Homo sapiens: one gene and its partner. The protein of the gene in region 1 purifies or fractionates together with the protein of each later gene. This does not show direct contact. Each region holds a gene or a part of one and is shown on either strand. Other genes may lie near its edges.

Evidence for each region.
Region 2: the proteins of RNF214 (region 1) and TTC3 purify together in Homo sapiens (affinity purification with mass spectrometry; one large-scale study listed by BioGRID and IntAct). This does not show direct contact.

Annotation. Positions count from the first base shown.
Region 1 is NC_000011.10:117,235,554-117,239,375, forward strand, and holds part of RNF214 (RING finger protein 214), read left to right. Parts: intron 1-3,047; coding exon 3,048-3,558; intron 3,559-3,822.
Region 2 is NC_000021.9:37,146,254-37,150,075, forward strand, and holds part of TTC3 (E3 ubiquitin-protein ligase TTC3), read left to right. Parts: intron 1-1,227; coding exon 1,228-1,350; intron 1,351-2,292; coding exon 2,293-2,394; intron 2,395-3,822. UniProt on the Homo sapiens protein: E3 ubiquitin-protein ligase which catalyzes the formation of 'Lys-48'-polyubiquitin chains. Mediates the ubiquitination and subsequent degradation of phosphorylated Akt (AKT1, AKT2 and AKT3) in the nucleus.

The DNA of each region.
Region 1 (3,822 bases):
AATGGCGTGAACCCAGCTCACTGCAACCTCCGTCTCCTGGGTTCAAACGTCTCCTGGATTCCCTTACCTCAGCCTCCCAAGTAGCTAGGATTACAGCCGCCCAGCACCACGCCTGGCTAATTTTTGTATTTGAGTAGAAACGGGGTTTTGCCACGTTGGCCAGACTGGGTATTTTACTTTTCAGTGATTTATTTTTATATTTTAAAAAATGGACACGATAATTGTACGTATTCATGGGGGTACATAGTGATGTTGTGGTGTATGTGATGTATAGTGATCAGATCAGGGTAATTAGCATGTCCATCATCACAAACGTTTATCCTTTTGAATATTTTCAGTCCATGGTTGGTTGAGTCCATGAATGTGGACCACATTCTACATAAAGAGGCTGACTGTGTATTCTTCCTCAACTCTGTTTTTTTTTTGAGAGAGACTCTTGCCCTGTCCCCCAGACTGGAGTGCAGTGGTGCGATCTTGGCTCACTGCGACCTCTGCCTCCCGGGTTCAAGTGATTCTCCTGCCTCAGCCTCCCTAGTAGCTGGGATTATAGGCACCTGCTTGGTAGCCCGGCTAATTTTTGTATTTTTAGTGGAGACCGGGTTTCACCATGTTGACCAGACTGGTCTTGAACTCCTGACCTCAAGTGATCTGTCCGTCTTGGCCTCCCAAAGTGCTGGAATTACAGGGATGAGCCACTGCACCTAGCTCCGTCAATTTTTTTGTTTTTTTTTTGTTCTTGAGATGGCATCTTGCTCCGTCACCCAGGCTGGAGTGCAGTGGCGCGATTTCCGCTCACTGCAACCTCTGCCTCCCGAGTTCAAGCGATTCTCCTGCCTAAGCCTCCTGAGTAGCTGGGACAACAGGCGCCCGCCACCACACCCGGCTAATTTTTTGTATTTTAGTAGAGGCAGAGTTTCACCATGTTGTCCAGGATGGTCTCGATCTTCCGACCTTGTGATCCGCCCGCCTCAGCCTCCCAAAGTGTTGGGATTACAGGCATGAGCCACCGCACCTGGCCGTCCCTCAACTCTTTTCCAGTGTACCTGGGTCCCCTAATACAGTAGCTAACACTTAACTACAGTTCCATACGTGGTAACACATTTAATCTTCACAACAGTCCCAGGAGGTAGTGATAATATTATTCGCATTTACCGGTGAGGAAACTGAGACACAGAGAGGTTAGTAATTTGCCCAAGGTTTCCAAGCTATGTTGGAGTCAGAGTTTTGATAAATAAAATCAACTTCATACACTAGTAATAATGGCAGCTAAGGTTTATTGAATGTTTACTATGTGCCAGGCACTGTACTGAGTACTTTATGTGCATTATCTCATGTAATCCTCACAACAGTCTTGTTAGGTGGATAGTATTATTTCTGTTTTACAAATGAGGTAACTTGCCGAGAGTCAAACAGCTTGTAAATGGTGGGCGGAGTCAGGATTCAAACTCAGGTACTGTATATGCCTGAATTTTTAATTAAGCACCCGCTCACAGTTAACTCCCAGCAGGAAGGAATCAGCTTCGAGTGTTTTTATTAATATTATTGAGACAGGGTCTCCATCTGTCATCCAGGCTGGAGTACAGTGGTGCGATCATGGCCTACTGCAGCCTCCACCTCCTGGGCTTAAGCAGTCCTCTCACTTCAGCCTCCCAAGTAACTGAAGCTACAGGTGCACGCCACTACACTTGGCTAATTTTTAAATTTTTATGTAGAGAGAGGGTCTTGCTATGTTTCCCAGGCTAGTCTTGAACTCCTGACCTCAAATGATCCTCCTGCCTTGACCTCCCAAAGTGTTGGGATTACAGGCATGAGCCATTGCTCCCCAGCGAGATATTCTTTCAGTTGTTTTATTTTGAACTAGTACGACTGAGGAAACAAAGACGCATCAACTTGAATCCCCATTGCTAGTTGGGTATGGTTAAGAGTGTCAGTTATAGAATTAGTTTAAAAAAAGAGGGTGGGGTCAAAGAAATTAAACATAGGCGTAATTCCTGGGTGAAAGATGTGCAATTGTGAATGTTGGATGTCATTGTAAATATGTTTTAAAGTCCCCTTTAAAAAGCAGTACCTCACTTCAGCCTGGGTGACAAAGTGAAACCCTGTCTCAAAAAATAAATAAATAAATAAAAAATAAAAGCAATACCTTGAATGGCTGTGACAAGTGACAGAATATCCTAATGTTAAGCATATGTATACTTACTGTGTGGGATAAAATTTCTATTGACAGCTTCAATTTTGGATTCAAAATTGTACTTTAGACAACTTAAAGTGTAGGTTCTATACTCTGGAAAACTGTTGAAGAACCTAAAAAGTGGTTCTGGTCAAAGATCTGTATAATGAGTTTGAATGAAAATTATTCCTGTGAAAGGTGAGAGAGGAATAAAAACAATACTTCTAAGTTAATATTTGATTATAATATTATGTATAACTAAATTAATACATGTAACTAAATTAAATATTCTAACTAGTATTAGGCTAATTCATCGGTATCCCCAAAAGTTATTAAAATTGGCACTCAAAAATTATTTGGATCTTCAGAATCATTTATGTTTGGCCATTTACTGTAGAACCCAGGTTTTTGGCCAGCTCACGCCTATAATTCCAACACTTTGGGAGGCTGAGGCAGGCAGATGGATCCCTTGAGTACAGGAGTTCGAGACCAGCCTGGGCAACATGGCAAAACCGTGCAAAAAATACAAAAAATTAGCTGGGCGTAGTGGCATGTGCCTGTAGTCCTAGTTACTCACAAGTCTGAGGTGGAGGATTGCTTGAGCCAAGGATGTTGAGACTGTAGTGAGCCTTGATGGCGGCACTGCACTCTAGCTTGGGTGACAGAGTTTAGAACCTCTCTAAAAACAAAACCAAAAACAAAAAACTAGGTCTTAACCACCAGGCTATACTACCTGCATACAGGATAGAAATCATTGGATTGAAACTAAGTTCTTTCATTATGATAGTCGGGAGGGTTTACGTAGTCTAGTTTTGTTCTTCTAGTAGTTAGGTTGAAAGTATTATATACTTTTCTTTTTATCTTGTGTGTTTGATAGCACCAAAGACTCTGCACAGAAGCAGAAGAACTCGCCTCTGTTGAGTGTAAGTAGCCAAACAATAACCAAGGAGAATAACAGAAATGTCCATTTGGAGCACTCAGAGCAGAATCCTGGTTCATCAGCAGGTGACACCTCAGCAGCGCACCAGGTGGTTTTAGGAGAAAACTTGATAGCCACAGCCCTTTGTCTTTCTGGCAGTGGGTCTCAGTCTGATTTGAAGGATGTGGCCAGCACAGCAGGAGAGGAGGGGGACACAAGCCTTCGGGAGAGCCTCCATCCAGTCACTCGGTCTCTTAAGGCAGGGTGCCATACTAAGCAGCTTGCCTCCAGGAATTGCTCTGAAGAGAAATCCCCACAAACCTCCATCCTAAAGGAAGGTAACAGGGACACAAGCTTGGATTTCCGACCTGTAGTGTCTCCAGCAAATGGGGTTGAAGGAGTCCGAGTGGATCAGGATGATGATCAAGATAGCTCTTCCCTGAAGCTTTCTCAGAACATTGCTGTACAGGTCAAGTGTCAAGTTTCTACTACTAAAATGTAATTGGGGGGTGGTGGGGTTCAGGGTGGGAGATATTTCTTCATATTTGGTGGAGAACTTGCTGGCTTGTTTTGTTTTTTGTTTTTTTTGCTAGCAACCATCATACTACTCTCATACAGTGCCATACAATGACTTCATTCTGATGTTCAGTAAATAAGAAAGCCAGTAGCCATTGTCTAATCTTATGGCAAGTAGGAACTTTATGACCTACGTGTAGTCTCTTTCACTGAGTAA
Region 2 (3,822 bases), on another chromosome or scaffold:
CTTGGTGGCTTACGCCTGTAATCCTACCACTTTGGGAGGCCAAGGCAGGAGGATTGCTTGAGCTCAGGAGTTCAAGACCAGCCTGGGCAACATGGCGAAACCCATCAATACAAAAATTAGCCAAACATAGTGGCACATGCCTGTAGTCCCAGCTACTCAGGAGGCTGAGGTGGAAGGGTCAGTTGAGCCCAGGAGGCAGAGGTTGCAGTGAGCTGAGATCGTGCCACTGCACTCCAGCCTGAGTGACAGAGTGAGACGCTGTCTCAAAAAAAAAAAAGAGTACTGATAACATGCTGCAGCATGGATGGACCTTGGAAACATTATGCTAAGTAAAAGAAGCCAAACACAAAGGGCTTGTGTGAGTCCATTCCTATGAAATCTCCAGAATAAGCAAGTCTGTATATAGTGACAGAAAGTAGACCAGTGATTGCTGGGCCTGGAAGGTTAGGGGAAAATGAGGAGGGACTGCTAATGCGTATGGAGTTTCTTTTTGAAAATGTTCTAAATTTAGACCGTGGTGATGTCAGCACATCCTGTGAATATGCTAAGAACACCGAACCGTACACTTCATTTGAGTTGTATAGTGTGTAAATTATGTCTCAACAAAGCTATTATAAAAAATACAACACAGGGATTCTTGGATTTACCTCTCTTCATACAAGATTGGGATAGAGGCATAGGAGCTATTGATAACAAAAAGCCAGCACTGGAAGCATGGCATGAGTCTCTTGGGGGCTTCATTAGCAGTGGAATAATTCTCCAGGGAGTCCACAAACAACAGTGGCAGAGCTGCAAGGAGGAAGATAATGGGAGTGTTAGGATTCTGGATGAGGTGATGTTGGGCAAGAGGAGCCTGGTAAAGTCCTCAGGATTACCCTAAGGGTTATTCTGCCTTACTTGACTTCCTCTTAATGCTTATGGAAGATTTCTGAGAGCTGTAAATTATAAAATGCGATTTGATGATTGTAACAGGACAAAATTTTGATTCTTTCGAAATTCTGAAAAAAAATTTTGTCCAGTCCTCTTTTTAAATCTCTCTTATGTCTCTTATCAGCCTTCCTTTTAAAAGGAAAAACTTTAAAAGTTGTATGTAGTTTGTTGTTGGTGAAAAAATTTAGTCATTCTTATGCTGAAAATATTTTGATGGCAAGAGGTTATTGAAATCACAAGCATTTTTATTGACAGATTAGTATTGTAATGGTATCATTTTTGTTTATTTTGTTTTAGATGCTGTTAGAGAAATTTGTTGAAGAATGCAAGTTCCCTCCAGTGCCAGATGCCATTTGTTGCTATCAGAAGTGCCATGGATATTCTAAGATCCAGATATACATAACTGATCCAGACTTTAAGGTAAATAATGAGTGTACAGTGGGACATTAACTTGCAAAATCATTTCTTAAAATGGGCTCAAAACAATCTGTAATTGGAGGCACCCAAGTTCTCTGGCTAGTTAGCAGTCGTCCACCCCTTTCCCAGGATTTTTTTTTTTTTTTTGAGATAAGTCTCACTCTGTCACCCAGGCTGGAGTGCAGTGGCACGATCTTGGCTCACTGCAACCTCCGCCTCCTGGGTTCAAGCAATTCTCCTGCCTCAGCCTCCCAAGTAGCTGGGATTACAGGCGTGTCCCAGCACGCCCAGCTAATTTTTGCATTTTTAGTAGAGACAGGGTTTCACCATATTGGCCAGGATGGTCTCGATCTCTTGACTTCGTGATCCACCCCCTCAGCCTCCCAAAGTGTGGGATTACAGGTATGAACCACCACGCCCAGCCTTCCTGGACTTTTTTAGGTCTACATCGTCTCACATGGGAACCAGAGCCACTGATGTATAAACGCTCTGGGCTGGGGTAGTGACCTGAGAAGGCAGGCTGGCTCATTCTTTTTCCTCTTCAAGCTACCTTAGGAGGATAGGAAACAAAGTGAGATTGTTACCTCTGATTTGTTGCAATTCTGATCTCTCATAAAATTTGAGTCCCAAATCTAAAGGTCATTGTGATCATTGAATTAGCTGTTAGAGACCTAAATTTGAGATAAGTCTGGCACTTAATTGAGTTATACTGGTTTATTCAAGAAGCTAGTAGCTGCCCTTGTCCTGCTGTTCCAATGTCCCTGGTTAGTAAATCAGATGAAATAATGTTTATAAAATATTTGATATATTTTGAAGAATGATGCAACTTTATGCTGTGGAAATAAATATGTTAGTCAAGCTCTCTCTGTCTTTATGTATGTTGTAGTGAGTGAGTGTGCAGAGACATCTTTAAAACGTTAATTAAAAAATTTTTTGTAACCCTAGGGTTTTATACGCATCAGCTGTTGCCAGTACTGTAAAATAGAATTTCACATGAATTGCTGGAAGAAGTTAAAAACTACAACCTTTAATGATAAAATTGACAAGGTAAAGCATAACAGGATTGTCTGAATTTTTCAGTATACTTATTGTATGTCAATTTTTCCCCCAAGAATTCCTTCCTGAACATTCTGCACATAATTAGAAAATTTTAAATTATAACTTTAATAATAAAGTGGAAAATCAAATTTGTTTTTATTTGGACAATCATAAAGGCATTAACCATAGAGGCTTTGTTTTTTTAAAGAGACGGATCTCACTGTGTTGCCCAGGCTAGAGTGCAGTGGTGCAGTCGTAGCTCACTGCAGCCTCAGACTCCTTGACCCAAGTGATCCTACTTCAGCCTCCCAAAGTGCTGGGATTATAGGCATGAGCCACTGCACCAGGCCCCACTTGAAAGTTTTGATGTGGAATTAGGGATTTCAAAACCAAAATTTGATGAGGTAATTTGTACTAAGAAGTCAACTCAAAACAATTTTTTTAATGTTGGGAAGAAAGATCAACTTCAATTTTAAACTGCCATTTCTCTCCAGGGATTTTCTTATTACCAAGATAATGATGTTAATTACCATTAAGTAGACATACTTTGAGGGAAGTCATAGTATTACAATCTTATTTGTATTCATAGAATTTGTTTCTGATCTATAGAAACTATGGACCTTTTCCTACACTTCTTAGGCTTATGCAGACCACTGTTCTTATTGGGGAAAGAATGAGGCAGTTGTACTAGGCATCTGTTAACAATAGCAATTATTAAAGTATGGTAGAAATAAATTCTCACATTTTGTACATTTTCACATAATTAATTAACAATATAATGATATGAGTAAATAACTGTCACCTTTGAGTCACTTCTGCTATGTCTTTGTCTTACCTAAATTGAGTTTCTCTAGTGATATACCCTCTTTTAGTGGTCTTAACTATTCCCATCATTTTAAATACACTCTGTAAATTAGTCAGCTTTCCCTAGGATATGCTGAAGTGATGCAACCCAAATATCTTGTGGCATACATCAGAGAAGTTTGTTTTTTGCTTACATGACTTGTCCTGCAGTTCTGCAGTTGTTGGCTGGGACTGGGCTGTAGCAGCTTTATTTTGTGTGGCTCTATTCCTTGTTTCTCAATCTAAGTTGAAGAATGACCCTTTTCTGGAACATCTTCCTGTGTCAGAGGAAAAAGAACAATGTCCAGTCTATGAAGTGTTTGTTAAACCTTTTGTCTAGACATGTGTATGTCATGTCTGGTCACTTTGCATTGATGAAAACAAGTCACATGGTCAGACCCACACCTGAAAGTATATTTTTCCTACACGGAAGCCTTAAAATTCGCATGGCAGTGAGTAAGGATTTTCACCACTTGCCTGAAGATGGTTTTAGTCCGTATTTTGACTGTTCCTAGTGGTAAAAATAGTATACGTGTATAGATTTATCCCCCCTAGACATAACATTTTTCTTGTTTTTTTTTTTTTTAATCAAAT